Homo sapiens: one gene and its partners. The protein of the gene in region 3 purifies or fractionates together with the protein of the main gene of each other region. This does not show direct contact. Each region holds a gene or a part of one and is shown on either strand. Other genes may lie near its edges.

The links.
Region 1: the proteins of CLCC1 (region 3) and DAZAP2 purify together in Homo sapiens (co-immunoprecipitation; 3 studies listed by BioGRID and IntAct, with this or other methods). This does not show direct contact.
Region 2: the proteins of CLCC1 (region 3) and PLSCR1 purify together in Homo sapiens (co-immunoprecipitation; 3 studies listed by BioGRID and IntAct, with this or other methods). This does not show direct contact.
Region 4: the proteins of CLCC1 (region 3) and UBR1 purify together in Homo sapiens (affinity purification with mass spectrometry; 3 studies listed by BioGRID and IntAct, with this or other methods). This does not show direct contact.

Annotation. Positions count from the first base shown.
Region 1 is NC_000012.12:51,233,566-51,241,825, forward strand, and holds the start of DAZAP2 (DAZ-associated protein 2), read left to right. Parts: upstream 1-5,260; 5' UTR 5,261-5,342; coding exon 5,343-5,355; intron 5,356-6,777; coding exon 6,778-6,896; intron 6,897-7,305; coding exon 7,306-7,551; intron 7,552-8,260. UniProt on the Homo sapiens protein: In unstressed cells, promotes SIAH1-mediated polyubiquitination and degradation of the serine/threonine-protein kinase HIPK2, probably by acting as a loading factor that potentiates complex formation between HIPK2 and ubiquitin ligase SIAH1.
Region 2 is NC_000003.12:146,541,595-146,549,697, reverse strand, and holds the start of PLSCR1 (phospholipid scramblase 1), read left to right. Parts: upstream 1-5,090; 5' UTR 5,091-5,231; intron 5,232-8,103. UniProt on the Homo sapiens protein: Catalyzes calcium-induced ATP-independent rapid bidirectional and non-specific movement of phospholipids (lipid scrambling or lipid flip-flop) between the inner and outer leaflet of the plasma membrane resulting in collapse of the phospholipid asymmetry which leads to phosphatidylserine externalization on the cell surface.
Region 3 is NC_000001.11:108,939,227-108,947,252, forward strand, and holds part of CLCC1 (chloride channel CLIC-like protein 1 isoform 1 precursor), read right to left. Parts: intron 4,832-8,026; coding exon 4,610-4,831; intron 4,390-4,609; coding exon 4,249-4,389; intron 2,273-4,248; coding exon 2,179-2,272; intron 917-2,178; coding exon 819-916; intron 557-818; coding exon 410-556; intron 1-409. UniProt on the Homo sapiens protein: Anion-selective channel with Ca(2+)-dependent and voltage-independent gating. Permeable to small monovalent anions with selectivity for bromide > chloride > nitrate > fluoride.
Region 4 is NC_000015.10:43,053,344-43,061,400, forward strand, and holds part of UBR1 (E3 ubiquitin-protein ligase UBR1), read right to left. Parts: intron 6,772-8,057; coding exon 6,709-6,771; intron 6,483-6,708; coding exon 6,359-6,482; intron 5,850-6,358; coding exon 5,742-5,849; intron 5,087-5,741; coding exon 4,998-5,086; intron 3,100-4,997; coding exon 3,001-3,099; intron 1,557-3,000; coding exon 1,399-1,556; intron 1-1,398. UniProt on the Homo sapiens protein: E3 ubiquitin-protein ligase which is a component of the N-end rule pathway. Recognizes and binds proteins bearing specific N-terminal residues that are destabilizing according to the N-end rule, leading to their ubiquitination and subsequent degradation.

The DNA of each region.
Region 1 (8,260 bases), on a different chromosome or scaffold from region 3:
CTATGTCATTCAGGCGGGAGCCCAGTGGTGCCATTATCTTCACTGCAGCCTCGAACTCTTGGACTCAAGTGATCCTCCCACCTCAGCCTTCCAAGTAGTTGGGACTATAGGTATGTGCCACCACACCAGGCTAATTGATTTACTTTTGTGTGTGTGGAGATGGGGTGTCATTATGTTGCCCAGGCTGGTCTCGAACTCCTGGCCTCAAGTGATCCTCCTGCCTTGGCCTCTCAAAGTGCTCGGATTATAGGTTCAAATATTTTTAAACGTCTAAAAAGTATATAGTAAAAAGTCACTTCCACCTTTGTCTCACATCCTCCACTCCCTCTCCCCCTTATGTAACCACTTTTATAGGTATTTTGTGTATCCTTCCAGAATTTCTTTACTCAAATTCTGATGAATATTCTTGGTTTCCCTGCTCTTTGACATAAAAAGTATCATATTGGCCAGGTGCGGTGGCTCACGCCTGTAATCCCAGCACTTTGGGAGGGCGAGGCGGGTGGATCTCTCGAGGCCAGGAGTTCGAGACCAGCCTGGCCAACATGGCAAAACCCCGCCTGTACTGGAAATACAAAAACTAGCCAGGCATGGTGGTGCACACCTGTAATCCCAGCTACTTGGGAGGCTCAGGCACAAGAATTACTTGAACCTGGGAGGCAGAGGTTGCAGTGAACCGAGATCACGCCACTGCATTCCAGCCTGCGTGACAAGAGTGCAACTCTGTCTCAAAATAAAATAAAAAATAAAATAAATAAAATGTATCACACTAAGTATATGGTTTTGAATCTTTCCCTTTTTTATTTAAAGAACACCTTGGAGTACTTTCTCATTCTCTGTTGCAGCCACATAGTATTTTATTGTATGGATGTATCAAGATTTATTTTTTCTGTTTCCTATTGATAGAAATATGGGTTATTTCTAATCTTTTGCTGTTACAGAAAAGCTGCAATGAATAGCCTTATACATACGTTTCTCGTGAGTGCAAATATATCTGTAGAATCACTCCCATTAGTGGGAATGGTATGTTTGCAAGTTTGATGGATATTGCCAAATTAACCTTATAGGATTTGTACCAATTTTCACCCCCATCACCAACAAATTAGAATGCCTGCTTATCCACAGCCCTGCAAATAATGTTAGCAAATGTTTGGATTTTCGCCAATCTGATAATGATATCGGTGGGGTTTAATCTGCCTTCTGATTACGACCCAGGCTGAACATCATTTCATGTGTTAGGGAGTCATTTGTTTTTCCTTTTCTGTGAACTGTCTGTCTGTAAATGTCATTTGCCATTTTTTTCTAATGGTTGATCATATTCTTACTGATGTCTAAGAGTTCTTTACATGCAGGAAGATTAGCTCTTTGTGATGTAAATTACAAATATATTTTTCCAATTTGTCATTTGACTATATGGAGTTTTGACTTTGTAGAAATTTTGTCCTGACATTAGTCCTGGAACTAGTCCAGTTGTTTCTGCTTCCTGGATATTTCTGGAATCCCCCCATTTCTCTCTACTGTACTGCCTCTTCCCTAGGCCAGTCTGCCATCATCACACCTAAATGACTAAATTTGATTCTAAATGGTATCTCAGACATACGTCCACTCTTGCCCTTTCTTTAACCTATTCTATATTCTTTAGCAACCAGAGGGATTTTTCCTTTTCTTTTCTTTATTTTTTTGAGATAGCCTCTATCACCGAGGCTGGCAGAGTACAGTGGTGTGACCACGACTCACTGCAGCCTCGACCTCCCGGGCTCAAGCAGTCCTCCTATCTCAACCCCTCGAGTAGCTGGGATCACAGGTGCGTGCCTCTATGCCTGGATACTTTTTTAGAAATTTCTTGCCGAGATGGGGTTTCACCACGTTGCACAGGCTGGTCTTGAACTCTTGGGCTCAAAGAATCCTCCTGCCTTGGACTCCCAAATTGTTGGGAATGCAGGCATGAGCCACTGTGCCTGGCCCAGAAGCATTTTTCTAAAAGAAAAACACAAGCCAGGAGCAGTGGATCACGCCTGTAATCCCAAGTTTGGGAGGCCGAGGCAGGAGGATTGCTTGAGGCCAGGAGTTCTAGACTACTCTAGGCAACAAAGTGAGACTCTGTCTCTATAAAAAATTTAAAATTAGCCAGGCATGGTGGCAAGCACCCACTGTCCCAGCTACTCGGGAGGCTGAGGTGAGAGGATGAACTGAGACCAGGAGTTCAACGTTGCCGTGAGCTGTGACTGCACCACTGCACTCCAGCTTGGGTGACAGAGCAAGACCCTGTCCCAATCAATCAATCAATCAAACAAAAACAAGATCATATCACTTTCCTGCTTAACATTCTTCAGTGGCTAACTAGTGCCCTTAACATAGAATCCAGTATCTTCATGTGGGATCTTACATGGGCTCTAAGGCGTCCCTGCAAGGTCTGGCTCACAGTTCTTCAGCGTCAATTTTTTTTTTTTTTTTTTTGAGACAGAATCTTGCTCTGTCACCCAGGCTGGAGTGCAATGGCACGATCGCGGCTCACTGCAACCTCCGCCTCCCAGGTTCATGCAATTCTCCTGCCTCAGCCTCCCAAGTAGCTGGGATTACAGGCACGCACCACCATGCCCAGCTAATTTTTGTGTTTTTAGTAGAGACGAGGTTTCCCCATGTTGGCCAGGCTGGTCTCGAACTCCTGACCTCAAGTCATTTGCCCGCCTTGGCCTCCCAAAGTGCTGGGATTACAGGCATGAGCCACCGCACCCGGATCTTCAGGGTCATCTTTTATCAGTCCCCTTACCAGTATGCTCTGGCTACACTGAACTCTTTCATGCCCTCCCCCTCTATAAGCCTTCTCACCTCTAGGCCTTTGCATAAGCAGTTCCCTCTTCCAGGAACCCTCTTCACTTGCTTAACCTGCTCTCACCCTTCAGATTTCATCTCAGACATCACTTGCATCAGGAAACCTTCCCTGACTACATCAGAATAGAGTAGGTGCCTCACCTATGTGTTCTCCTCACACTCCATGCTGTCTTTATGTCAGCACTAATCATATTATGTGTTCACTTTTCTGTCTCTCCCATTAGGTAGACCATAAATTCCATGAGAGTATGGACTATGCCTGTCTCTTCATTATTATTTCCCTAGTGCCTGTCACAGGGCCTGGCACATAATAGGTGCTCAAAAAATATTTGTTAAATTAATGTAAGAAAGAATGTTTGATAAATGACCAAATAAACATCTTCATCTCATTGGGGAATCTACGAGAATGAAGAAAATGCCAAAGTTTGATCCTGTTCAAGAAAGTAGCTAATTACTACTACTTTTTTTTGTAGAGATGAAGTCTCACTATGCTGCCTAGGCTGGTTCTGAACTCCTGGCTCAAGCGATCCTCCTGCCTAGGCTGCCCAAAGTGTTGGGATTACAGGTGTGAGCTGTTGCACCCAGCCACCATTTACTTCTTAATTCCACCTGCCAGAGAAAGCACTGGCCTGCAACTCTTTCATTTTTGTTAGTAATCTCATTTGGCTCTGCCCTGGTTTTCCCAATGCCCAGGTCCCACTGTGACAAGCAAAATACCCAACAACCTGTAAAGTAGGCCTGACCAATCTGAGGGCAGTTTACATGAGCAGGAGGTAGGCCCAGGAGAGTTCCTGGGTCCTAAGAGTTAACCCTTTAATCATTGGACAATGGAGGTGGCAAGATCGCTTGAGGCTGGAAATTCAAGACCAGCCTGGCCAACACAGGGAGACCCCATCTCTGTATTAAAAAATGAATAGCACGTGCCTGTAATCCCAGCTAGTCGGGAGGCTGAGGCAGGAGAATCGCTTAGAACCCTGGAGGCGGAGGTTGCAGTGAGCTGAGATTGCGCCACTGCACTCCAGCCTGGCGACAGACCAAGCCTCTGTCTCAAAAATAAATAAATAAATAAATAAATAAATAAATAAATAAATAAATAAATAAAAATAAGGCTCGGCGCAGTGGCTTATGCCTGTAATCCCAGAACCTTGGGAGGCCGAGGCAGGTGGATCACCTGAGGTCAGGAGTTCGAGACCAGCCTGGCCAACATGGTGAAACCCCGTCTCTACTAAAAAATACAAAATTTGCCGGTCGTGGTGGCGGGCACCTGTAATCCCAGCTATTCGGGAGGCTGAGGCAGGAGAATTGCTTGAACCCAGGAGGCGGAGGTTGCAGTGAACCGAGATCATGCCACTGCACTCCAGCCTGGGCGACAGAGCAAGACTCCATCTCAAAAAAAAAAAAAAAAAAAAAAAGAAAAGAAAAAATTAAAACTTTTTTTAGAAAGAAAGAAAACCAGCCTGGCCAACATAGTGAAACCCCGTCTCTACTAAAAATACAAAAATTAGCCAGGAATGGTGGCGCACGCCTGTAGGCCCAGCTACTCAGGAAGCTGAGGCAGGAGAATTGCCTGAACCCGGGAGGTGGAGGCTGTGGTGAGATCGCCCCACTGCACTCTAGCCTGGGCAAGCGAGCAAGACTCCGTCTCAAAAAAAAAAGAAAAAGAAAAGAAAACACTTAATCGCTGCCCTAAAGGATGCCATCTTTGCCCTTAAGGATAATTAGGTTAGAAAGAGAAGCCATACATAGAGAAAAATAGAGGTACCATACAGGTCACCTGCAACAGGTGCTAAAAAAAGGAAAGGGCCACAAACACTCCATGGGTAGTGCAGTTATGTCAGTTTCAGTGCCAGGTGTTGCGTACAGCACGGAAAACATAACCCCTTCCTGTACGTGAGAAAGGCAACGACTGTCCTGGGGAAGACAGGGCAGCGAAGATTCCAGTGCAGGTCTCATTCAGGAAAGGATACATGTGAGCTGGAGTGGCAAAATAAATTTTAACAGAGCTGAAGCTTAAGTTGGGCTTGGTGGGGAGGGACGCATGATAAACTAAGGTGTGGGGAGCCGATTTCAGGCAGTGCGACAAATTTGCAGAAATCTAAGCCCCTCGTGGAAGGTTGCCAAGGTGAGGTGACCTTGAGTGAATGCGTGTAGGTGGAAAAAGGTTCCGGGGAATGCTTGCATCGTTCTGCATCCGAGCGTCCAACAGAGAAAAGATCCTGTTTCCAGACAATACCTGCATTTGGTTTTTCTCCAGCTGAGGGACACCGGTAGGGGGGGGGAGGACAGAAACGAGCAGGGGGTGGGGCCAAGGCGAGTGGGCGGGACCGCGCGGACCCTCCCGCGGCCGACTGGAGGCCCGGAGCAGGGGCGGAGTTTCCGGCGGCAGCGCCACTCGGGCGTCGGGTGACGCTAGGCGGACGGACCATCATGTGACACGGAAGTAGCTCCGAACAGGAAGAGGACGAAAAAAATAACCGTCCGCGACGCCGAGACAAACCGGACCCGCAACCACCATGAACAGCAAAGGCAAGGACCGAGGGTGGCAGAGGCCGTCGGGGGGAGTACTGCTGGCCCAGAGCGAGCGGATTCGGAGCCCAGGGTCACCAAACGCCAGGTTTGGGGTGGGCTGCGCCATGCTCCTTGGCCGGCTGCAGTCCAGGGCGCTGCGCCTGACGCCTTCGTCATACCCAAATTACGGCAGCTTGCTGCCTCCAGGCCCTTTCCTCCGTAAACTCTGTGGCGCAGTTTGGAGCTGCGGGCTCGGGTGGTGGGGGGGCTTGACATGATGGGCATCCGCAGGAGCAAATAGAGCGCTAGCGCAGGCATTCGCGTAGGCCAATGGAGAGCCGGCGGAGGCGGGGCGCCGCGCTCCGGAACCCCCAGCGGGGCCGAACTTAACTACTGAATTGCTGGAGTTGGTTCGTGGGCCGGGGCCTGTGAGGTCTCTTTTCCTTCCCTTCGCACCCCCTCGCCCTTCGCTGACGGGATCAGAACTTCTCCCCTTTTCTGTGGTTGTACCAGTGTGTCTGTCGGAACATGATTCCCATAACGCAGGAATAGGTTGAGGGGGTAAAAAAGGAATAGAAAAAAAAAAAAAAAAAAGGCCGAGCGAGGTTGCTCACGCCTGTAATCCCAGCAGTTTGGGAGGTCGAGGCGGGCGGATCACCTGAGGTCAAGAGTTCGAGACCAGCCTGGCCAACGTGGTGAAACCCCGTCTCTATTAAAAAATACAAAAATCAGCTGGGCGTGGTGGCGGGCGCCTGTAATCCCAGCTACTCGGGAGGCTGGGGTAGGAGAATTGCTTGAACCCAGGAGACGGAGGTTGCAGTGAGCCGAGATCGCGCCACTGCACTCCAGCCTGGGCAAAAGAGCGAGACTCCGTCTCAGAACAAACAAAAAACCAAACCTGATCCCCCGCTTTTCCAGTGAGGATATTCCTCCTCACCCCTCAGCCCTGCACCCTTTTCCCAGTCTCACGGTTCACTTCCATCATTCACACCCTTTGTTTGGAAGTCGACCTTGAATAGTAATCTGTAAGGAAAATCAGAACTGCTGTTACCCACGAAGTCTGGGCTGGTTGTAGACAGGCTGTGGAGACTACCTAGAGCAGAGGCACCCTTGATAAGCCAGAACAGCAGCAGGCCAGAACCCCAGACCTGTCCTGCATTCCGGAGGGAACTTGGGCCCAGGTAGACTTAACCCCTTACTTCGGTATGTTAGTAGGAGCAGTGAGCAGTGCCTTTCTTGTCTCGTTAGAATCCAGCACCTTCCATTTTAAGGGTGCAAAGACAATGCATATTTTCTTAGTTCCAGGAATCAGGCCCTCTGGGGCAGACTATTTGCAAATCCCCTTCTGCTTGCTCCCACTAAGTTAGCTACCCGATATGACCTGCCTCATTTTGGTAGCTCTGTGTAGTAGGCAACCTTCATTTTTTTCTTGTCTTTCAGGTCAATATCCAACACAGCCAACCTACCCTGTGCAGCCTCCTGGGAATCCAGTATACCCTCAGACCTTGCATCTTCCTCAGGCTCCACCCTATACCGATGCTCCACCTGCCTACTCAGAGGTGCTTCCAGTTTGCCAGATTTGAACTAGCTGGGAATACTCTTAGGGTGGTCCTTTAGTCCTTAGCTAAATCTGACTTCACATATTTACTCTTCACAAATGCTAACATGAATAATCTAAAACACTATATAATTTGGCAATTTTTGTCGGAGTTGAAAGTGCATTATTTGATGATTTTGTGTTATTTGGCACAGGCTAAGGTGCAGAAGATGAATTTGCGTTCTGTGAGCCCAACATTAGCTATAGCAGAAAGTGATCCAGGAGAATATTGAAGGCCAGTGGAAAGGCAACTTGTATAATCTTACAAAAAGTATAACCTGCATAAGGAGAATTAAGAATTAGCTCATTAAAGAGATCTCAAATAGGAATGTCATAAAGTAACATTTTGCCTTCTCTTCTGCCTCTTCTAGCTCTATCGTCCGAGCTTTGTGCACCCAGGGGCTGCCACAGTCCCCACCATGTCAGCCGCATTTCCTGGAGCCTCTCTGTATCTTCCCATGGCCCAGTCTGTGGCTGTTGGGCCTTTAGGTTCCACAATCCCCATGGCTTATTATCCAGTCGGTCCCATCTATCCACCTGGCTCCACAGTGCTGGTGGAAGGAGGGTATGATGCAGGTGCCAGATTTGGAGCTGGGGCTACTGCTGGCAACATTCCTGTGAGTATGACCTCATCAGAAGAAACTCAGCCCTTGTGTATTTTAACTTTCTGAAATGACTTCATATTCATTCTCTTACCATTTCTGGATGATAGTTGCCAGTGTTGGTACAACTACTGACATCCAATACTCAGGCAGAAAGTGTTTGAGGGGGCAGAACTGTGGCAAGTGAGTAGCATCTCACTGGGGGCTGAGTTAACCAGATTCTTTTGTTTTCATGTCTGTCGAGTCCTGCTTGCTGCTTTTCCAGTTCATTGTGGTACACTGAACTGGTCTAGTAATGCTCCTTATTCATTCCATAAGCATTTACCATTTACTTAATATTTGCCATCAGCATGGTGTTGCACTAGGAACCCTGATAATTAAAAAAGTAGAATGTATAATCCCTAGTAAGTAGCTTTTAGAAAGATATTAACAATTTTAGTTATCATTTTTTCCTACTTAATTCCCCAGTGCGTGGGATTTAGAGCTCAAATGACTGCTCAGTAACTACATGCTAGAGATGAAGTGAATGTGTCATTAGCGAGCCTTCAGTTTTCCAGTAGTTCATTCAAAAACTGTGTAAGGGCGAAGCACGGTGGCTCACCTGAGGTCAGGAGTTTGAGACCAGGCTGGCCAACATGGTGAAACCCCGACTCTACTATAAATACAAAAATTAGCCGGGCATGGTGGCAGGCGTCTGTAATCCCAGCTACTTGGGAGGCTAAGA
Region 2 (8,103 bases), on a different chromosome or scaffold from region 3:
ATAAAACTAGGGAGTGAAAAGGACAAGATTTCACTTCTTTTCTGCATTTGCAGCTTTATTGTTTGGAAAAAAATCACATTACTTTTGTAAATAACAAATTTTAAAGGAAAATAATTATTCCTTCAGTTCAATAAATATTTATTTATTACATGTCTCTATGCCAGCTGCAGGGCTGGAAAAATAAACATTCTAAACAAATCTGGTTGGTTTGATTTCAAAACATATTTAAAATATCATTTGGTATAGTCCCATTTATTTATTTTTGTTCTTGTAGCCTGAGCTTTTGGTGTGATAGTCAAGAAATCTTTGGCAAGGTAAATGTCAAGGAGCTTTTCTCTTATATTTTCTTCCAGGAGTTTAACGGTTTGAGGTCTTACATGTAGGTCTTTTATCCATTTTGTTTTTGATTTGTTTGTGTGGTGTAAGACAACAGTTCAATTTCATTCTTTTGTATGTGAAAATCCAGTCTTCCCAGCACCATTTATTCAAGAGACCATCCTTTCCTCATTGTGTTCTCTTGGGGCCCTTGTGAAAAATTAGTTGACCGTGTATGTTTGGATTTATTTCTGAGCTATTTTGTTCCATTGGTCTACATATCTGTTTTTATGTCAGTGCCATTCTGTTTTATATAAATTTGTAATATAATTTTTAATTAGGAAGTGTTATTTCTCCAGCTTCAATTTTTTTCTCAGAATTGCTTTGGCTATTTGAGGTCTTTTGTGGTTTCATACAAATTTGCATTGAATCTATATATTACTTTGGGTAGTATGAACATTTTAACAATATTATTTCTACATCAAACCAAAAACTTCTGCATGGCAAAGGAAACAATCAACGAAATGAAATGGCAACCTATAGATTGGAAAAATATATATCTGCAAATCATGTTCTCAGAAAAGGGTTGAGTTTCCAAGATTTATAAAGAACTTATACAACTCAATAGCAAGAAAACATATAACCCAATTTAAAAATGGGAAATGGACTTGAATAGACACTTCTTCAAAAATGACATAAAAATAGCCAACAGGTATATGAAAATGTGCCCAGCATCACTATTCATCAGAAAAATGCAAATCAAAATCACTATGAGATACTACGTCATACCTGTTAGGATTGGTATTATCAAAAAGACAAGAGATAACAAGTGTCGGCAAGGGTGTAGAGAAAAGAGAATCCTTGTACACTGTAGGTGGGAATGTAGGCTGGTGCAGCCGTTATGGAAAACAGTACGGAGGTTCCTACAGAAATTAAAAGTAGAACTACCATATGACCCAGAAATCCCTCTTCTGGGTATATACCAAAAGCAAATGAAATCACCGTCTCCTGAAGATAGCCGCACTCCCATGTTCATTGCAGCATTATTCAGAATAGCCAAGATAATAGAAATAATCTAGGTGTCCATCAATAGACAACTGTATAAATAAAGATACATATATTCCATGTTGTGTGTATACACACACACAGATACACACAAAATAGAATATTACTCAGCCTTATAAAAGAAGGAAATTCTGCCAGGTGCTATCACATGGATGGACCTGGAAGGCATTATGCTAAATGAAATAAGCCAGACACAGAAAGAAAAATTTTGCACAATCTCACTTATATGAAATTAAGAAAAGGTCAAATATATACAATAGTGGTTTATAGCAGGGGTCCCCAAGCCCCAGGCCACGGACCTGCACATGTGAGGGATCTAGGTGCATATTTCTTAGGAGAATCTAATGCCTGATTATCTGAGGTGGAGCTCAGGCAGTGATGCTAGCATCGGGCAGCAGCGGCAAATACAGATTAACATTAGCAGAGAGTTTTGACTGCACAGAGACCATAATAAATACATTGATTGCAGACTCATATCAAAACCCTATCAGTGAGGGGCAAATGACAAGTGACAATTAAGCTGTGTCTGGAGGCAGGCTTTATAGTGGAAAATTGATGTACTTCAATTGTACAGTTGCATCTGGTGGCAGGCTTTAAGTCAGAATCCAACACTTATTTTAGTCTGTGCATGGCCCACCCATTATTTTACCACTTCCATCTGCACCTCTTTTCCACACTGTGCACTTGTCTTAGTCACAGTTTTGCTAAGCCCACAAGCTAACCCTTGTGAAAAACAAGGGTTTTTGTTAAAAAAAAGTTTTTGTTAAAAACATCAAAGTGAGTGAAAAACAAACATCACTGGACAGCTTCTTTGAAAATGGGGAAAAACCCAAAGGTGAGATAACAGAAGACTCTAAGACTGCTAACAAAAAGAAAGCTGCACTTAAAGGAAAATGCCAAGAGTCCTACTTAAATTACAGGTTCATTGCAACAGGTGGTTCACATTCTCCAATCCTGCTTTGTATAATATGTGGTGACCAACTGCCCAATGAAGCCATGAAACCTGCAAAACTACTTTGCCACATGGAGACCAAGCACTCTGCATTAAAAGACAAGCCTTTGGAGTTTTTTGTTTTGTTTTGTTTAAAAAAAAAACAGAAACCATGAAACCATGAACACAAAGAACACATAGAAGCAATTATTGAAGGCCACCATGTCATCAAATGTGTCTGCACTGAGAGCATCATTCATAGTGGCTAACTGCATTGCTAAAGCTAAGAAGCCCTTTACTATTGGTGAAGAATTGATCCTGCCTGCTGCTAAGGACATTTGTTGGGAACTTTTAGGAGAGGCTGCAGTTCAAAAAATAGCACATATTCCTCTTCTGGCTAGCACCATAACTAGATGAATTGATGAAATAGCAGAGAATATCGAGGTACAATTGTTAGAGAGGATTAATGAGTCACCATTAATCCTCTCTAGCAATTGGTATGCAATCCAGGTTGATGAGTCTACTGATATTGACAACAAAGCAACAATGCTTTTTTGTGTGTGATATATTTTTCAGGAAGATGTGCACAAGGATATATTATGTGAATTTTTGTTGCCAATCAAAACCACAGCTGAAGAACTATTTGTCTTTGAATGATTACATATCAAGAAAACTGAATTGGTTATTTTGTGTAGGTATATGCATGGAAGGAGTGGCTGCCATGACTGGATGGCTTTCTGGTTTCACTACTCTGGTCAAAGAGACCAGAATGTGAGTCTATGCACTGTGTCATCCACAGAAAAATGCTGGCTAGCTGAAAAATGTTACCTGAACTTAACAATGTTTTGCAGGATGTGACAAAAATAATCAACCACATTAAAGTACATTTTCTTAACTCACATCTGTTTGTGCAGCTCTGTGAGGAGATGGACACTGGGCATGCATGTCTTCTCTTATACACAGAAATGAGATGGCTTTCTAAAAGTAGATCACTGGCTGAAATTTTTGAATTATGAGAGCTGCTCCAGAGATTTATTTTAGAAAATCAGTCACCATTGGCGGCACATTTCAGTGACACAGAAAGGGTTGCAAAACTTGCTTACTTGTGTGATGTATTCAACTCGATCTATGAACTCAACTTGTCGCTTCAGGAGAGAAGGACAACTGTGTTCAAGGAAGCAGATAAATTGGTTGCATTGAAAGCCAAACTGGAATTATGGGGGCAACGAATGAACATTGAGATTTTTGACATGTTTCAAACATTAGCAGAGATTTTGAAGAAGACTGAGCCAGCAGCTTCTTTCTCTCAGCTGATGCATGATCACCTATCTTAGCTTTCAAAAGAGTTCGAGCATTACTACCCAACCACAAAAGAACCCTGAACTGGGAATGAATGTATCCATGACCCATTTGTGAGTAAGTCAGGTGAATCGATTTTGTCCGTACTAGAAGAGGATCAATTGCTTGAGATCACAAATGATGGTGGCCTTAAAAGTATGTTTGAGACAGCTTCAAATCCCATGTTCTGGATTAAACTCAAGGTGGGATATCCTGAGATTGCCACAAAAGCACTGAAGAGTCTGCTTCCATTTCCAACATGCTATCTTTGTGAAGCAGGATTTTCTGCAGTGACAGCAACCAAAACAAGATTACGGAGTAGACTGGACATAAGCAACACACTTCTGGTGTCACTGTCTCCCACCGTTCCCAGATGGGACCTTCTAATTGCAGGAAAACAAGGTCAGGGCTCCCACTGATTCCACATTATGGTGAGTTGTATAATTATTTTATTATATATTACAATGTAATAATAATAGAAGTAAAGTGCGCAATACACGTAATGTGCTTGAATCATCCTGAAACCGTCTGCCACCCGGCCCTGGTCCATGGAAAAATCCTCTTCCGTGAAACTGGTCCCTGGTGCCAAAAAGGTTGGGGACCACTGGTTTATCCAGGGTCATCCAGGTTGGAGTGGGGTCAGGAGAAATGGGGAAATTTAGGTAAAAGTATACAAAGTTACAAACACGTAGGATGAACAAATGGGAAGACCTAATGTACAACATGAGGGCTATAGTTAATGATAGTGGTATTCAGGATTTATGCTAAATAAGTAGATTATAGCTGCTCTTGCCCCAAGGGGGGAAATGTGTAATTATAGGAGTTGATGGATATGTCATACAAATAACTTAAATACACAGAATAAAAACTATTTTAGTTTAAAAAGGAACAATATTTATAAAAAAATAAAGTGAGCTCGAAAACATTCAAATAACTGCTTAAAAATTAAAAAGTAATATCACATAATTTAATAGAAGGAAAGAAAGAGCAAGACAGCAAGAAAGAAAAGGCACCATAAAGAAAAACAATTTTGGCCCCTCCTCATTTGTAGTCTTAAGCTGCCTCTACTCCCTCGCCTTGAAAAGCCACGGGCTTCCGAGGGATGGAGGTCAAAGCCAGAGTAAAGAAAGTTCCCGGGGGAGGCCACTCCCCAGCTGATGACTTTCCAGTTCCAGTTAGTGTCGGAGTCCCAGTTCCTCTCCTTAACCACCGGACAAACGTCTCTGGAGTCTCTCCAATGAGCAAGAAAGCAAGTCGGGGGTAGGGGAGGGGCCTCACACCAGGGGGTGGGCGCAGTCCCTCCTCCAGCTCCTTCACCCTCCAGTAGTCTCGTGGGTCCCCGAGCGCCAGCGCGGGAACCGGGAAAAGGAAACCGTGTTGTGTACGTAAGATTCAGGAAACGAAACCAGGAGCCGCGGGTGTTGGCGCAAAGGTTACTCCCAGACCCTTTTCCGGCTGACTTCTGAGAAGGTTGCGCAGCAGCTGTGCCCGGCAGTCTAGAGGCGCAGAAGAGGAAGCCATCGCCTGGCCCCGGCTCTCTGGACCTTGTCTCGCTCGGGAGCGGAAACAGCGGCAGCCAGAGGTGCGCGGGCGGCTTTCTCTGCCGCCTCCTGGGGACTTGGGCGCGGGAACTGCGCGGAGCCTGCGCTGGGGCCAGGGCCGGGGTCAGGTGTGGAGGGCAACTTGTGGGGAACCGGCGCGAGGGCCCGCAGGTTGTGTTTGCTGCTCTGGGGGTGGAGGATGTGGGGTGAAGGTTGGGGCCAGAAATGCAAGAGGCCTCTGAAAGGGACCCTGGAAGTGGAGCAGGTACACGGCAAGGGGCCCCAGGCGGCCCAGCGGCACCCGGGCTCACCCCAGAACCATTCGAATGACAAGGGGTGCCCTGCCTGAAAACGCCTTGCGGGGCTCAGCTTCCCCTTAGCTACACTGCTTTACAGGTAGAGAGCGGCCCTGAATCCTGGGTAGAGTCTGGGCTCAGGAGCATGTGCCAGCGTAGTGGGGCTATTAGAAGGAATGGTTAATACAGCCTGCAAGCTGTCATTTATCAGTAAGTATTCAATGAAGTCCGCCGGAGCCCACATCTATGCTAGGCCCTCTACAATACCAGCTTAGGAAAGATAGTGGCGGTATCTAGCACGGTTCCTAAGACCATTAGCTCCAGTCAGGCTCCCCGACTTTAAATTCGGCCTCTACTGCTTCACGTCTGTGGACTGTCAGCCACTTTCTTCTTATATATGTTCTTTCCATTGCCTCATCTCTGAAATTGTGTAACTATTAAATGAGCTACAGAGTATTAATGTAAAATTCTTAGAGCAGTGCCTGGCGCTACAGAAAGTACTCAGTGAAAGTTAGCTCTTATTATTTTAAATATTTGACAAAGTTCCTGCTTCTCCAAGCTGATTCTCTGGTTCCCAGGTGGTTTCATTCATGCACTGTTATTCCTGGAAGTCTTGGCATGGCCACTTCCCAGTTCCAGGAACAGGCAGTCGTTGTTTTTTCTGGCTTATCACATTGAGATACATGGTTACTACAAGTGACACTTAAACGTGTCAGACAGTTTGGGGGCTCCCTTCTTGAACTTTTTCTAAGAGCAAACCTTTGTCTTAATGCCACCCTGTTTACAACAATAGTAGGGCTTTGAACAATGAGAAAATGCGGGGAAATGAAAAAGACATATAAAGGGAAAGAGTGGATTTATGCAATTGGATAGAAAAGTGGCATGTAAAATAGCTGGTTTATAGATCAAACTGCCTTTAGATCTGTAAAGGAGCTTAGAGTACATACAGGTGGAGAGACATCAGATGTGTGTGAGCAGACCCTTATGTACTTCTCCATCTTCATCTCTAAGAATGTCTCCCTCTTTTGCTCTGTAACCTCACTCGTCTTCCTTTACTTGAATGAGGGACGTTCCTCCAGCTCAGGAATTCTACCTATGGAGTTCCCTCTATCTATGATGCCCTCCAACACCCCACCCACCATACCTCCATAGACTAGTTGATTTGAGACTTCCTTCATCTCCTAGTCTGACTTTTCTTAAACCCCCTACCACCATCTAAGTTAGTGCCCCATAACCCTTTCTTATAGCAACATTAATTTTATTTATAGCACTTAGAGTATTTTTAATAATATATTTAATTCTTAATTGTCTGTCTCCCCTAGTGTCTAGGTATTGTGCTCTAGTGCCTGGTATAGTGCCTTGCATGCTCTATGCCTTCAATTAATTCCTTTAAAACCACACAAGCTTTATATTTAGTGAATATTTATATAGGAAGAATTTCTATGTGTATATATGTGTATCTGTGTATATACACACTGTATTGCACTGCCCTGAATAGTGCTAAATTAAAAAACCAAAACACTTTTTAATCAGAACTTAATAGTTGCACTCTTCAATTTTCCATATGTTCTTTTAAGAAGTGATTAGAAAAAAATGATGTCTCCATATGTTGTCTGCTGCTGTAAAAGAATACCTGAGACTTGGTAATTTATAAAGGACAGAAATTTATTTCTTACAGTTCTGGAGGCTAGGAAGTCCAACATAATCATGTGTTGCTTAAATACAGGAATACATTCTGAGAAATGCATCATGAGGCAATTTTGTGGTTGTGAGAACGTCATAGAATTTACTTACACAATCCTGGATACTATAGCCAGCCTACTATTTAGGCTGGGGTGGTGGGGTTGGGGGTGTTGAGGAGAGTCAGATTGAGAGCTGAGGGAAGTCTCAAATCAACTAGTCTATAGACGTGTGGGTGAGTGGGTTGGTGGAGGGCATTATAGACAGAGGGAACCTCACAGGTAGAAGTCCTGGGCTGGAGGGAACTTGGCTCATTCAAGAAAAGGAATGACCAGTGAGGTGGCAGATAGCCTACTAGACCTAGACTGTGTGGAATAAGGTGTTGCTCCTAGGCTAGAAACCTGTATAGCATGTACTACTGTAATGAATACTGTATGCAAGTATAATACAATGTCAAGTATTTATGTATCTAAACATAGAAAGGGTACAGTAAAAATAATCTTATGGGACCACCATCATATATGTGATCTGTTGTTGTGGTGCATGACTGTATGGAGGCACCAGCATCTTGTGAGGGTCTTCTTACTGCATCATCCCATGGTGGAAAGTGGAAGGGCAAGACAGCAAGAGAGAGTGGAACTTGATTTCCTTACAAGCCTACTCTGGCAATAACAAACCCACTCCCAAGATAACGACATTAATCTATTCATGAAGGTAGAGTGCTTATAAACTAATCATATTTTATTAGGCTCCACCTCCCAACACTGTTGCATTGGAAATTAAGTTTCCAACACATGAACTTAGCTCACACATTCTAACCATAGCACCTGGCCTAGTTAAAGCTAAGTGGCACAAGAGTAAATTGAAATTCAAGCCTTTTCTGTCTTACATAAGAAAGATAACCTTAAAAGAGTCTTTTAACAAATTTCACTGAAGG
Region 3 (8,026 bases):
ATATATAATAAATATATAAATATAGACAGATATATAAATATAAATATATATAGATAGATATATAAATATACATATATGTATAATTTTTTTTTTTTTTTGAGACGGAATCTTGCTCTGTCGCCCAGGCTGGAGTACAGTGGTGCGATCTCGGCTCACTGCAAGCTCCGCCTCCCAGGTTCACCCCGTTCTCCTGCCTCAGCCTCCCGAGTAGCTGGGACTACAGGCGCCCGCCACCACGCCCGGCTAATTTTTTGTATTTTTTTTAGTAGAGACAGGGTTTCACTGTGTTAGCCAGGATGGTCTCGATCTCCTGACCTCGTGATCCGCCCGCCTAGGCCTCCCAAAGTGCTGGGATTACAGGCGTGAGCCACCGCGCCTGGCCCGACAGTGCTAATATATTAATACTAACCAGGATGGCTAATGCCATAATTATCAGCACTGGAAGATGAAGCAGCGCTGGAATTTCCTTCATGAGTGCTTTAATAAATTCCCCAGTTCCTTTTCCAATATGCTTCAATGGCTCCGTTACAAATGTGGTGAATGTAACTGCAAGTGCCTAAAACGAGAGAAAAGCAACTTAATTTTCTCCTCACAGGACTAAGGTACAGAATGCATCAAAATTCATTGAGTACTGATGCTGAAAGTATGTTACATAAATTAAAATGCTGTTGTGCCATTTTTAATGTGAAAATCACTGTGCAAAAGTATTTTTTCTTGGACAAACGCTTATTAGCAAAATGACTCAAACACTAAAGTTCTTTAAAATACAAGGGATTTCTGACTGACTTTAAGTAATTTTTACAAAATATATGCTATACCTTTGTTGGTGGGACCAACCAAATAGGGTTGACTAGTAAGAGCTCATAGTATTTTTGGCATGGGTCATCCTTATAGGTCCATGAACTTCTAAACCATTCTGTTTAGAGAAACAGACAAAACACTGATCATTTCTTTTAATGTTGCATTTCATTCCCAAACAAGACATTACTTTGGTTTTGACCCTCCCTGACCACCCACCAATGAGTTTTAAATTATCTTAAGTTTTAAGTAGACTCCCTGTAATGCTGATTTTTAAATTTTTCATCTTATGTCCAAAATCATGTTTTAAAAATCCATTCAAATTATACATGTTTTATGCAGATAAAAAATTGTATTTTATAAAAATGTCTAAAAGGTAAACACTTTAAAAGCAATGCTTCACAAACACAAATGAGTACAGGTAAAATGGGAAGTCGAAATAAGACTGGTGGATTGTATCAAAGTCAATATCCTGGCTCTGATATTGTACTATTAAAGCTGTGCAAGATGTCACCACTGGAGGAAAATGGGGAAAGGGTACACGGGCTCTCTCTGTAGTATTTCTTACTGTGTGAATCCACAATTACCTCAGTAAATTTTTAATTTAAAAAGTCAGTTCTTTATGGAGTTTACAAAATAAAGTGGAATATTAGTTCTAATTTTTCCAAATCAGGCTTATATACGTTGGGAAACTAGCCTGAGCTAGAGGAGGCATTTCACTGTCCACTGAAGCCAGGAAGGAAGGCTGAATTGGTTTAGTTCCCACAACTTTTTAAGAAACATTTATTTTGGATTCCATCTGCAGAATTCCGTGTCAGTCATGGACTTGCATTTATAAAATGCCTTGGAACATTATTAAACCATCCCCATTGCTAGATACATACAACCAAAGGTAGTGAACATTCATGAGAATGTTTATAAAATGTGAAAGAATAAAAAAACTAATTTTTCCCGTAGTTAAAAAAAAGTAAAGCTACAACATAAAATTTCACAAGTCAATATAAGGCCATTAAATTTAAGATGGATATTAATTCATATATACATTCATTCACTTGTTTAATAAACTTCTATTGAGAATATGCCAGACCCTGTGCAAAGAACGAGATGAACAAAAGCGAGCATAGGATCCTTCACACAGTCTTATGAAGGAAGACAGATAATATCAGAGCCAACATATATACAACTTCTATTCCTTCCCTGTGACTTTAGATGAGCATAAAAAGTCACTGGTTTTAAACCTAAAATGCTTCTTGCATGTTCTTCTGATATTAAAGATTCAGTCATGGAAAGCCTCCTGTTATTTTATCATTCTCTTTGTTCTATGTTCTTTCATTCTCAGAATTTCTATTCAAAATAAGGACAAGTGCACAAACACCTTACCCCAGATACTTCCAGTCCAGTCCATCTTTTTGGCACACACATTGTTTAATGGCTCCATCTTGGCGACTTCAGCCTGATGCTGTGCAAAAGCTAGCTGCCCAACACCAAAAGGGAACCAGGAGAGGCCGTTACCTATGAAGGTTAGGCCTACACATCCAAAAGACCTTCATTCAAAGAGTGTCTTTACCATTCATCCAAACCAGACTGTTATAAATTTTTAATTAAAAAAAAACATATTATTATTACTATTTTTTCTCTTTTTTTCCTGAGACGGAGTCTCGCCCTGTCACCCACGCTGGTGTGCGGTGGCACAATCTCGGCTCACTGCAACCACCACCTCCCGGGTTCAAGCGATTCTCCTGCCTCAGCTTCCCGAGTAGCTGGGATTAAAGGTGCCCGCTACCACGCCCAGCTAATTTTTGTATTTTTAGTAGAGACGGGGTTTCATCATGTTGGCCAGGCTGGTCTTGAACTCCTGACCTCAAGTGATCCGCCCGCCTCAGCCTCCCAAAGTGCTAGGATTATAGGAAAACATATTATTTGTAAAGAGTAGCTATTTCCAGTTCATGGAAAAGTACAGCCTTAATGCAACAAGTAAGCATAAAGTACTAACTACAATTGCCTTCTCTGTAAGTAATTATAATGAAAAAGGGAAACTTTACTAAAAATATTGTTTTTAAAAATTAGTTCAGCCAGGCGTGATAGCACGGGCCTGTAGTCCCAGATAGGAGGCTGAGGCAAGAGAATCGCTTGAACCCGGGAGGTGGAGGTTGCATTGAGCCGAGATTTCACTACTGCACTCCAGCCTGGGGGACAGAGTGAGACTGTCTCAAAAACAACAGCAACAACAACAACAATTAGTTCTAGCCATACAAATTAAATGACTACTTCTTATTTTCTTTTATAGTTGATGATATCCTATTTTGCACTGGATAATTTCCAGTACAATGACCAATATACAATCATTAAGGTGACAATACTCAAGCAACTTTCCTTCCACACAGAATCTGTGTTTAATTTGTAAATAATTAGTTCTAAATACTATAATACTTACAGCAAAAGGTTAAGGAAATGTCACAATGCTTTAACCAGATGAAATCATTGAAAATACTTGGCTACTTGACTCACTCTGCTAGAAAGATCTAAAATTTTCTTTCAATGATTATTATTTATGCTATGTTGATGGGAACAGTAGTGGTCCTTTCCAATTTCTATATACAGTATGATCCCAACTTTGAAAGATAATTAAAATCTAGAAAAATCTAGAAAGAAATACCTTAAACTACTGACAGATTTTCTCTAGGTGATAAAATTATAGGTTATTTTAAAAATTAATTTCCTTGTATCTGCCTTTTCTAAATTCTCTGCCATGAATATACCACTTATTCAAAAAATAACCTAATTTTTAAAAAATAATATTTTGGTATCATTTCTAGCAAAGACATAGAATGACATACTCTAAATTACCTACATGATAATTTTTAAATGTATCCACATAGCTTTATTCTTTTTTTTTTCTTCCTTGTTTTTGAGACAGACCTCACTCTGTGGTCCAGGCTGGAGTGCAGCAGCGCAATCTTGGCTCACTGCAACCTCTCAGGTTCAAGCAATTCTCCTGCCTCAGCCTGCTGAGTAGCTGGGACTACAGGTGCACGTCACCAGGCCCAGCTAATTTTTGTATTTTTAGTAGAGACAGGGTTTCACCATGTTGGCCAGGCTAGTCTTGACCTCCTGACCAAGTGATCTGCCCACCTCAGCCTCCCAAAATGCTGGGATTACAGGCATGAGCCACCACACCCAACCCACCTGGCTTTATTCTGACTTAGATGCCCAAATGTTAACATTAACTGGGTTATGAAAATTAGGACTGAACTTTTTTACCCACTAACTGGTCAAGGAATCAAAAAACTGTCAGCTAAGAAGTGTCCATTTAATTCCTCTCCAGCGTGGGCCACCTCTAATCACTGCCTCCAACCCACATCCAAGGCAAGATTGCTCTCAATGGATTAGAGTCTTCTTTCATTGTGAATAAATGTGTTAAAATTGTAAAACCCTCCATCCATATAATACCTTATATAAATACATCCAATTCCATCCCAAACTGAACAGAAAGCTGATGATTAAAACACGTCTCAACTGAGTGTACCAACGTACATATGTCCACAGCTCAGTAGCCACTAAAACCACGATGCAGAGCAGACAAAGAAGTACCTTAAAACAGAGAGAAGCAGAAATCAGCCACCAAAAACACTTAAGACAGCTAAAAAGAACTGGACTCAAAAGCACAAAATCATTTCTACAATTTTGTGGCTTGTTCATCAATACGGTATAAGTGACCTAGTACAGGTTCTTAACGTAATTATGGTGGAGTTTGGAAAGTATTTTAAAAAGGAAACTTAATGACGTTGCCCTTGCCCTCATCCCATCTTACCATTAACACATTATATGGATCCACTCCAAAGGAATCTTCGAATCGCCACTTCCATGTTTCAAAATCATGAAACTTAAAATTAATTAAAATATCACTTAGTGCATCATCCAAGGCACCTGGTTTCCAGTCTTCTCCATTGAGAAACTTCTGTATTTCTAACAAAGTTTCTCTTTTAAGGATAATCTCAGCATCATAATGCATATCGCCTTTGTTTTCATCAGGCTAAATTAAATTTACCAAAAAACAAACAATAGAAAGAGAATTTTATTACTACTTGGTGAACCATTTTAAGACAAAAGCCAATTTGGAACTAAATATTAGTTTGCAGTATTTCATATGTATAAGAATAATAGCCTGGGCAAGGTAGCTCACACCTATAATCCTAGTGCTTTGACAGGCCAAGGTGGGAGGATAGCTTGAAGCCAGGACTTCAAGACCAGCCTGGGCAACAAAGCGAGACCCCATCTCTACAAAAAATTCTAACCATTAGCTGTGTGCAGTGGTGTGCACCTGGCTCCTGCCTACTCAGCAGGCTGAGGCAGAAGAATTGTCTGTGCCCCGGATTCGAGGCTGCAGTAAGCTATGAGCATACCACTGCACTCCAGCATGGGAGACAGAGTAAGACCCTGTCTCTAAAAAAAAAAAATAATAATAATATCCACCTGTCTTCACAGGCCAACATGAAAACCAAAGATAATATACATGAAAAACATTTAAAAATTCTAGAACTCTATGTAAAAAAGATACTGTAAATTTCACTAAAATACAGTTGATTCTTGCTATTCGCAGTAGTTATCGTCTTTTTTTTTTTTTAGATGGAGTCTCACTCTGTCGCCCAGGCTGGAGTGCAGTGACGCAATCTCTGCTCACTGCAAGCTCCACCTCCTGGGTTCACGCCATTCTCCTGCCTCAGCCTCCCATGTAGCTGGGACTACAGGTGCCCGCCACTACGCCTGGCTAATTTTTTCTATTTTTAGTAGAGACGGGGTTTCACCGCATTAGCCAGGATGGTCTCGATCTCCTGACCTCATGATCCGCCCGCCATGGCCTCCCAAAGTGCTGGGATTACAGGCGTGAGCCACTGCACCCGGCCTCACAGTAGTTATCTTCTATAAAGTCACCTCAAACACCAATTAGCAAGTACTGAACCATTACTCCTATAATAAATACAGGGTTTGGTTCGTGCAAACCTGTCATAACATTTTTATCAATTGATCAATATATAACCTTGTTTTATGTGTGTTTCTGTACATTCCTGTTTAAGGACACCTTATTTAAAATACATATTGTTCATTCACTAACACTGAACACATGGACAACTGTCCTATACCTTACGCTTGACTGAAGCCTATCTAATACACACCTTTTCCTTTTCTCTGTAAGTACATCGTGGCCTTCTTGCACTTAGAAACACTAGACCTCAGCTCAGCACTACATCAGAGGGCCGTTTTAAACAACGAAATGATGCTGTTTAATGATTGGTCTCAAAATAAAAATAAAAAAAATCACCCCTCTCCCCTCAAAAAAGCACGAAAAAATATACCACTAAATAGACCACAAAAAAAGACACTTGTTTGCAGTACGAGAGCTGAAACAAGAAAACAGTTTTGATTGCCTTGTTCCATCTCAGCTGGGAATGCCTGCAACAGGCAACCCAAATTTTTTACCACTCTTCACTGTGTCCCAGAGTAACCACAGAACACCTCGATTATTGACTTTGGGGTTACACAGACTTAATGAGGTCAATTCATAAATACGGAATCTGTGAAGAATGAGGATCAACTGTGCATCTTCATTTTATGATTCACTGCATGACTTTTCATTTCCTGACAGTTTTCAGATAGCCTAAAATCTGTATTAGTGCAAACAAGAAAAACAAGAAGGATCTCAAAGAGCAACAAAATAATGGGTTTCCATAAATTACATATTTATAACTACCTTTATTAGTGTGAGTTCAGCTTAGCAAAATCACTAAACAAATTTTGCATTAATTAGCCAGTTGATACAAATAAAATTCCTTTTTCTTTTATAAACAGTAAATACAAGGTGGGACATGGTGGCTCACACCTGTAATCCCAGCACTTTGGGAGGCCGAGGCGGTCAGATCACTTGAGGTCAGGAGTTTGAGACCAGCCTGGCTAACATGGTGAAATCCTGTCTCTACTGAAAACACAAAAATATTAGCCAGACGTGGCCGGGCGCGGTGGCTCATGCCTATAATCCCAGCACTTTGGGAGGCATGAGGCAGGCGGATCACGAGGTCAGGAGATCAAGACCATCCTGGCTAACACGGTGAAACCCTGTCTCTACTGAAAATACAAAAAATTAGCCGGGCATGGTGGCGGGTGCCTGTAGTCCCAGCTACTCAGGAGGCTGAGGCAGGAGAATGGTGTAAACCTGGGAGGCGGAGCTTGCAGTGAGCGGAGATTGCGCCACTGCACTCCAGCCTGGGTGACAGAGCAAGACTCTGTCTCAAAAAAAAAAAAAAATCAGAAACTAAATATTTTCCAGCATTTCCATCTTAAGTATTTTTGGTTCCATCTGTTTCCTTATCTAGGTTCTGTTCCACCCTGTACGTAGCTGTAAGGCTCAAATTACAGAGTGTACGTATGAGAACGCATCTGCTTCTACATTTCCAGAATAAGGTGGCGTTATTCATCTAACACTCCTTTTTCTTTTGGTCACTTCTTACTGTACCAGGAAGATGGAGTATATGGCAAGTTTTGCCAGCCTACACTGTGCTGATGCAAGGGCCTTTCATTTTCAGGGATCTGCCTGTAACCACTTCTGGCAGGTGGGGCTAATGGCCAGATCAAGACCAAAGGCTGGTCTCTGACTCTCTAAGTCAATTCTGGTGGCACACACAATAGGAAAAAAAAAGTCTATGAGCTTTTAAATGAGCTTTCTAAATGTTATAAGTTATTAAATTTATGTTTTCTTGATGTTTTCACTTTGGTAAGTGAATTAAAACTAAATTAATGCATTAAGTCTGGGAAGTTTTCACTTCCCAAAGTGAAAACAGTGACTTCTTAAAAATAGAAATTTTGGCCAGGTGCGGTGGCTCACACCTGTAATCCCAGCACTTTGGGAGGCCAAGGCAAGCGGATCACCTGAGGTCAGGAGTTTAAGACCAGCTTGGCCAATATGGCAAAACCCCATCTCTACTAAAAATACAAAAATTAGCCAGGCATGGTGGCAGGTGCCTGTAATCCAGCTACTCGGGAGGCTGAGTCAGGGAGAATTGCTGGAACCCGGGAGGCAGAGGTTGTAGTGAGCCAAGATTGCACGACGGTACTCCGGCCTGGACAACAGAGCGAGACTCTGTCTCAAAAAAAAAAGGAAATTTTAACAATAATTATGAACAATATGTCTATAAAGTAGCACTCACCACAGTAAACAACAAGGAGAAAAACTACA
Region 4 (8,057 bases), on a different chromosome or scaffold from region 3:
TATAAAAATAACTCAGTTATAATACTTCACAGTAATGATAGCCATGGTAGAGAGATTTTTTTCTATATTCACTGACCTAACAATAACTTTAAGTACTGCCATTAGGAGTTTTTGTTTTGTACAACATGTAAGTTTTGCATAATTTGGCTGAGAAACAAATTTCAATTACAATGGCTATATATTGATTCACTACTGAATTTACCTACCATCTCCACTTATACTGAAGATAAAATATAATAATTTACTGAACTTTATTTTATTTTTTTAGAGATAGGATCCCGCTCTGTTGCCCAGGCTGGAGTGCAGTGGCATGATCACAGTTTACTGTAACCTCAAACCCCTGGGCTCAAGTGATCCTCTCGCCTCTGCATCCTGAGTAGCTAGGAATAGAGGCTTGCACTGCTGTACCTGGCTAATTTTTATTTTTATTTTTGTAGAAACAAGGTCTCGCTATGTTGTCCAGGCTGGTCTGATACAGACGCAATTTTTTTTTTTTTTTTTTGAGATGCAGTCTCACTCCGTTGCCAGGCTGGAGTGCAGTGGCGCAATCTTTGCTCACTACAACCTCCACCTCCTGCGTTCAAGCGATTCTTCTGCCTCAGCCTCATGGCAATTTTTAAAAAATGGAGTATTTTCAGTCTGCGGTTGGTTGAACCCACAGATGTGGAACCCACAAATACGGAGGATCAACTGTATAGCAAAAAGGAGTTAAAAAAATGTTAACAGCCAGCCGCAGTAGCTCATGACTGTAATCCCAACACTATGGGAGGCCAAAGCAGAAGGACTGCTTGACCCCAGGAGTCCAAGTCAGCCTGGGCAACAAAAAGTGAGACTCCGTCTCTACAAAACAATAAAAAATTTGCCAGGCATGGTGGCACGTGCCTGTGGTCCCAGCTACATGGGAGGCTGAGGCAGGAGGATCACTGGAGCCCAGGAGGTTGAGGCTTCAGTGAGCCATGTTTGCATCACTGCACTCCAGCTTGGGCAACACAGCGAGACCCTGTCTCAAAAAAAAAAAGAAAGAAATTTATGTCAATAGATTGTCTGAAACTATGCACAAAGAGACTATATAGGAAGGACAGAACCAAAGTGTGTGAGTGGAAGTGAATGAAAAGTATGGTAATTACAATGGCAATGCATTTGGTGACCCCAGGAGATCCCAAGTTCCTGTAATGGGCCTCTCCTCAATACCTTCTTTACTAACCAGGTTTTACAACTCAATAAGAAGCCTTCACTGAAGACATTTATTAACGCGAGGCAGTAACAGTTCTTTGTACTTGCCATCATTATAAAGAGAATTCTGGATAACCAAAATGATCACAGGATTACTTATAAGACACAGCAAATAAGCACACTGAGTTTAACAGGTGCCCTCACCTTTTGACTTGAACAACTTACTTTAGGTCACATATTACTGCATATACTCTTCCCAATTTGTCCTGGCTATAACCCTGGAAGTTGAATTTATTGTTCCTGTCCAAGTACTCAGGTAAAACTTCTAGCAGAGTTTCAGTAATGACAGAGATAACATTCTGCTCTTCAATAAGATGTCGAGCCTGCGGAATATTTCAAGAATATTTTCTTTAGCATTAACTCATTGTGGTATGGACTTAATTTATTCATTCATTTGGTTAGTCAGTATGTCATTTTTAATAAATGTTTGTTATTGAATGTTAAACACAGTCCTTAGTTTCACTGAATAGCAACTACTAAGAAGTTATTTTCTAAAAGAAAAAATTCCCTACTCCTCAGTAACTAGACAACACCTATCTGGATACTCCAAGCCCATTAGACAGGTTATCTAGATAAATGTTTATCATCAGTAATGTGGTGGCTCATGCCTGTAATCCCAGGACTTTGGGAGGCCGAGGCAGGCGGATCACCTGAACTCAGGAGTTCGAGACTATCCTGGTCAACATGGCAAAACCCCATCTCCACAAAAAATACAAAAATTAGCCAGGTGTGGTGGCAATGCCTGTAATCTCAGTTATTCAGGAGGCTGAGGCAGGAGAATCGCTTGAACCAGGAGGCGGAGGTTGCAGTGAGCCGAGATCGTGCTACTACACCCCAGCCTGAGTGACAGAGAGAGACTTCATCTCAAAAAAAAAAATCACACAATGAGCAAGTATAACAAAGATATACTTCATGACTTCTAGCACACTACGATCTATTCTGAAATCTCCTCCTTACCCCAATCTAAACTCTCCTCTCCATCCTTTTGAAAAAGTAAAGTAGAAACAATTAACCAAGTTTGGATAACTATCTAATTCCAGACAAGAAAAGAAGTAGGGCTGGGCGCGGTGGCTCACACTTGTAATCCCAGCACTTTGGGAGGCTAAGGCTGGCAGATCACCTGAGGTCAGGAGTTTGAGACCAGCCTGGCCAACATGGTGAAACCCCGTCTCTACTAAAAATACAAAAATCAACCAGGCGTGGTGGTGCCTGCCCGTAGTCCCAGCTACTTGGGTGGCTGAGGCATGAGAATCGCTTGAACCCGGGAGGCGGAGGCTGCAGTGAGCCCAGGTCGTCCCATTGCACTCCAGCCAGGGCAACCCAGCCAAGACTCTGTCTCAAGAAACAAAAAACAAAGAAAAGAAGTGGTATACAAAGGAAGCAGAATCTTCCACTCTCCTCCCAGGCCTATGCAGCACCCTCTCTCCCAAATGCTTGACAGGCACACCCTCCCACTTCTTAGTTTTATCTTATTCTATCTGCCTACAAACAATAACTTAAAAATAAAATATTTTTGGTATTGAAAAGGCAGTGTTCATAAGTTACTCTAGAAAGTAAGAAACCAGCTCTAGGTGTCATCTGCATTGACGAGGACATCTGAACCAAGGCAGCGCCTAGTTAACTAGTCCTTGGGTAGCACTAAAGTATTCACATAGCCCAACTTAGTGATTCTAACATTGTTCTAATTTGATTCAACATTAAGTGGAATTCTTACAAAGCAAAACAAGTTTTACTTAGAAAGACTGAAAAGGAATAATCAATACATACCAGAGTAGGAACAGTAAACATCTGAACTGAAAGTGCAGTTATAGAGATACTTCTGTCATGATCATCACTGATATATTCTTTCTGCAGTTGTTTATAATACTGAAATATATAAGTAGAGAATCAATTATAAATCACTACTAAAGACCTTTAAAAAATCCCAATTTTAATAACTGCTGCAGGTTTGTTTCTATCTATAAAATGTCAAGTAATATAATTCCTATTTATTAAGGCAAGATATTATGATCAGCAAAAATATCTTAGAAGGAGAATAACAAACAACAAATCAAGTAAAAATTCACCTACTCAATTTAGCAGAGATAGAAGTGGAAACTATTAAAATATACACATAGGTTAAAAAACAAACAAACAAACAAACAAAAAACAGAGGACTGCAATGGTATAGTTTATCCTTTCTCCAAACAGAATCTGGGGCAATCTTTAGCAGCTTCCACTCTAATGGTATTGGGCAGGGAATATATTCAAAGTATTTAACAACTGATATGACCCAGAAAAACCAACCAATCAGATTGAATCCAGCCTTAAACAGAATGGATGCTGGCTGCAAATAACTTCTTTCCCATACTGGTACATAACAGCTGCAAAACAACCCTGATATACTGGGAGAACAAAAATAGGAATATACTCAGTCACATAATAGGCATCTATTATGTGTAAGGCACAAAGTTGGATACTTAACCTACTTTAAGTTAGATACTTTACCCTCCAGAATTCCTACAAAGTTTAAGGGGTAACCATGGTGTACAAAAAAAATCATCTAAGTAGGGAGATTAGCTTTTGTATAAGAAAACAAAATTTCATTTCAGATCACACATATGGTCCAATATTCTATATCTGAAGAGTTTTAGAAGAGAACATCTTGAGTTGCCATCACTGCTGAAGGATAAGACATACAACAAATGTCTTAGTTACTTTTAAGTCTGCATATAAAATCCAGGTAATGCAGGTATCTTATCCCACAGTGTCATTTGCCTACAACAATCATTATTTCTTTCTCTGCTTCCAATTCCATCTTGGGTCCTATATCTATCTTAAGTCTTACAGAATTGACTGCAACTCAAAATCAGAGGAAATCAACAAGTATGACTGGCAAGTATGATTGCCTTATATAAGGCAAAATAAAAGATTCAAAGGAGTCCTTGATCTGTATACCCTTGCAATCTAATTTGGTAGATAGACAAAAAGATACAGTAAGGTAAGAGATACACGATAGATTAATAAAACATTAAAAAGCTGTAAATTTTAGCCTTATGCTTTAGCTTCCAAAAACTAAGTAGAACTCTTGGCCACCTAATTCCTGCCCCCCACTTTAGCATACACATCTGTTCTTCTTTCCTGCTATACTTTTCAATTAGTCACTTCTATTCTTATTGTAATTTTACTAACAGGCAAATAAATGATTAGGAAGACTGAATGCATATGTGAATGTGATAACCTCCCTTTGCTCTGGGTCAGTGGGTCATTTTCCACCTATCTCTTCTCTAAGAATGCTGTTTCTATACTAGCAAATAACATTTGTGAAAATATTTATATAACGTATGAGAACGAACTTTTTTTTTTTTTTTGAGATGGGAGTCTCACTCTGTTGCCCAGACTAGAGGGCAGTGGCGCGATCTTGGCTCACTGCAACCTCTGCCTCTCAGGTTCAAGTGATTTTCCTGCCTCAGCCTCCTGAGTAGCTGGGACTACAGGCACCTGCCACCATGCCTGGCTAATTTTTGTATTTGTAGTAGAGACGGGGTTTCACCGTGTTGGCCAGGCTGGTCTCGAGCTCCTGACTTCAAATGATCCACCCACCTCAGCCTCCCAAAGTGCTGGGATTACAGGCGTGAGCCAACCCGCAGGGCCAAGAACAAACTTTTGACAAAGAAATAAATCATAACATTTAATTTTTGATTCATAATTATCCCTGTTTCTATTAATTCATTTATAAAAACTGCCTATTTCTATTTATTGATATCTAATTTATAAATAATTACCTTCACAAATTCCATAGCAAAGAGTTTTTTGTATTCCATCTCCATAAAAAAACTGCTGAAGATCAATTCATGAAGGATCTTACGGGCACCTATAGATTATTTTGGGGAGGGTGGGGGAATGAGGAGAATCACCAAGGCAAAAACCAAAAACATTCTGGCTATTAGAGTGGCAGAATATTATAAAATTACTTCACATGCAAACAGACCTCAAATAGTATTTATTGTATTAATATTTAATAACTGGAATTTAAAATACACACATATATTGCCTTTTCCCTCTTTTTCTGCACCCCTCCCACCACTTCATCTTACACTTCAATTTACTCTCTCCCAACCTTTTCATTCTTTTTCTATTTCACTGTACTTTTCCTTCTCCATGCTTTTAGCCTTTTACGTTTTGTTCTTCATTTAGATTTTTACAATGAAAATAGCATCTTTTTCGCTACTCGATAATGGCACTACTACCTGAATATATAGATACATGTATAGACACATACATATATACTCTTTTTGACTGGCTCTCACTAAATGAAAAGACTCTATAATTAAAAGACAACATCCCTGGGTTTTAACACCAAAGAATACATACTGACTGGTTAAACTTTATATTCACATGTAGTATCTTATCAATCAAGATTACAGATTTAATAACTAATTTAATAAACAAAAGATATTACAGCTCCACTTTAAGGTCATAATCTTCCTTTGCTTCCTGACAAACAGCATAAGCAAATGTCTACTTACCTTTATAAAGCTTTGCATCCCAAAGCATTAACCTGCTTATGAGACAGGGATTCTCCGAGTCAGGTTCTTCTCTAAGGCATGCTTGGCAAAAGATCTGCCTAAAGTCACCTACAAACAAAAGAGGTCACACAGTTACACAACTTGTATTCTTTTTCTTTTTAAATAGAGATGAGTCTCACTCTGTTGCCCAGGTTGGTCTTGAACTCCTGGGCTCAAGCGATCCTTCCACCTCAGCCTCTCACAGTGCTGGCATTACAGACATGAGCCCCTGTACTCAGCCATAATTTTTATTCTTATAACATTTCTCCTAAAAGTACATTTCCTATAACATGTGAAAAGAATAATATTAATCCTCCCACATTTGAGGCAAAGAATAATTCTGTCAACATCAAAGACTCAACAGCCAATAAAAAGATATTATTTGATACTATGCACTTGAAATAATATCCTAAGATATTATACATTTGAAATGCAACCCTGAAAATTAATCAAAGTGTATAAACCAAAAAAAAAAAAAAAAGAAAAACTTTATTTCATACTCAATGACATTTTAAAATTTGTGGCTATAAAACACATAGTATTTTATCAGAAACAAGAAAAACAGGAGGTATGCTTACTTGAATAGCTCATAATTTTGTTCATCCAGGAACCAAGACGCAAAGCAAATTTCTGATGAGCCATAATCTCTGAGTGTAATACTTCTACATGAAGTGGATGTTGAGAGACATTTTCTGAATGACTCTACAAATGAAGGGAACGAACCAAAAAAATAGCATTTAAAATTTGCTTTTAGTTAAGGGATTTATACTTCAAATGAAGAAATCACATAACCCTGCCAGTTCCAAATCTCTGCATCTAGGTGCCCCAAACCACTTCAACGACATCATCACTCAAATTATTCTACTTGGGCTCTTGTAATGTACATTCATCTTTAACTTCTCTTTTTCCCCCTAATTCAGAAAGTTACCTTTATATCTTCCTTTGCTTCCTGGCAAGCAGCATAAGCTCCCGCTTTAACAGCCCGACGACCCTAATTATAGACAAAAGTGAGAATTAGGTAGTGAAATGATAACCACAATCAATAAGCAATATGTAGCCCAAAGACTTAATGAGCTCTTAACTGAGCTCTAATCGCGTGTTGACTAAAAGTTGTAAGATACCGGAACAATATCTGAAAGACAGATGCAAATGTTTAACACCTTTATGAAGTATGAAAACTTTAATACCTCTAGGACAGACAGTCTATAGTTTAAGATGCTGAGTTTCTTGCCTGGCAGGAATGGCAGTTCTTTAGTTACTGCAGTGTCCTCTCTACTTATATGAAACAATGACTCAGGCTTTCTAAACTTCTGCTATGTATTTAAAATATTTTTCATGAATGAATTCACAGCTCTTCAACATGTATCCTATGATATACTTGTGGCCCATTAACGAGCGGGAAGTATAGCTGGACTACTGATTCCACCAGTCCTGGAGGCGGTCATGCAAGGTCTATGTAGGATTTCCTTGTAGCTCATTCTTTTACCCACCTGTAAAAATTCATCATTTTCTATATGTGCCATGTGAAAAAAGTCAGGAAGCACTGTCTTCCTCATTTAACCTTTACAATGACCCTATGAAGAAGGTATACCACATTTTACAGATGATAAAAAGAAAAATAAGACAGAAGTTAATTTGTCCCCCAATCAGAAAGTTAGCAAGTGACAGATTCAGAGATCCATGACAAGCATTTCATCTCCAGAGTCTGTACTTTTAACCATCCTGTAATATTCCCTCTTTAGCTGCTTAGTACATAAGCATAAGAACTATCCAAATATATTTGGACTACTAATTACACCAGTAAGGTTGCCATTACAGAAAAAAAAAAAAAAAGCACAAAAAGCCAGGCCATAAGAGATTGTTAAAAGAACAGATTGGACAAGAATAGTTACATAAACTCGAGCTCAATCAGCTTGTATGTATGTGATGCTGGCAATTAACCTAAAGCAGTGGATCTCAACAAACAGGGGGAGGAAAACCACCTCACATCCATATTTTTTGGCTGCTATCAAAAAATAAGAAGGGAGTTAGCTGCTGATCATGGTGGATGGGAGACAGGACTAGATTGGAGCTCCGAGCTCTGACTCAGATGGACAGAGCAGCACACAGAGGCTCACATCATGAATTTTAGCTCCAGAACGACTGTAAGAACAAACCAGGAATCCAGAGAGGACCTACAGACCTTCTGAAGCAAGGGGACTGCTCCTGCAGGACCTGGGAGACACCCCAAATACTCAGTCCCAATACTGGCTATCTTTCCAGAGGAAAAGAAGTCAT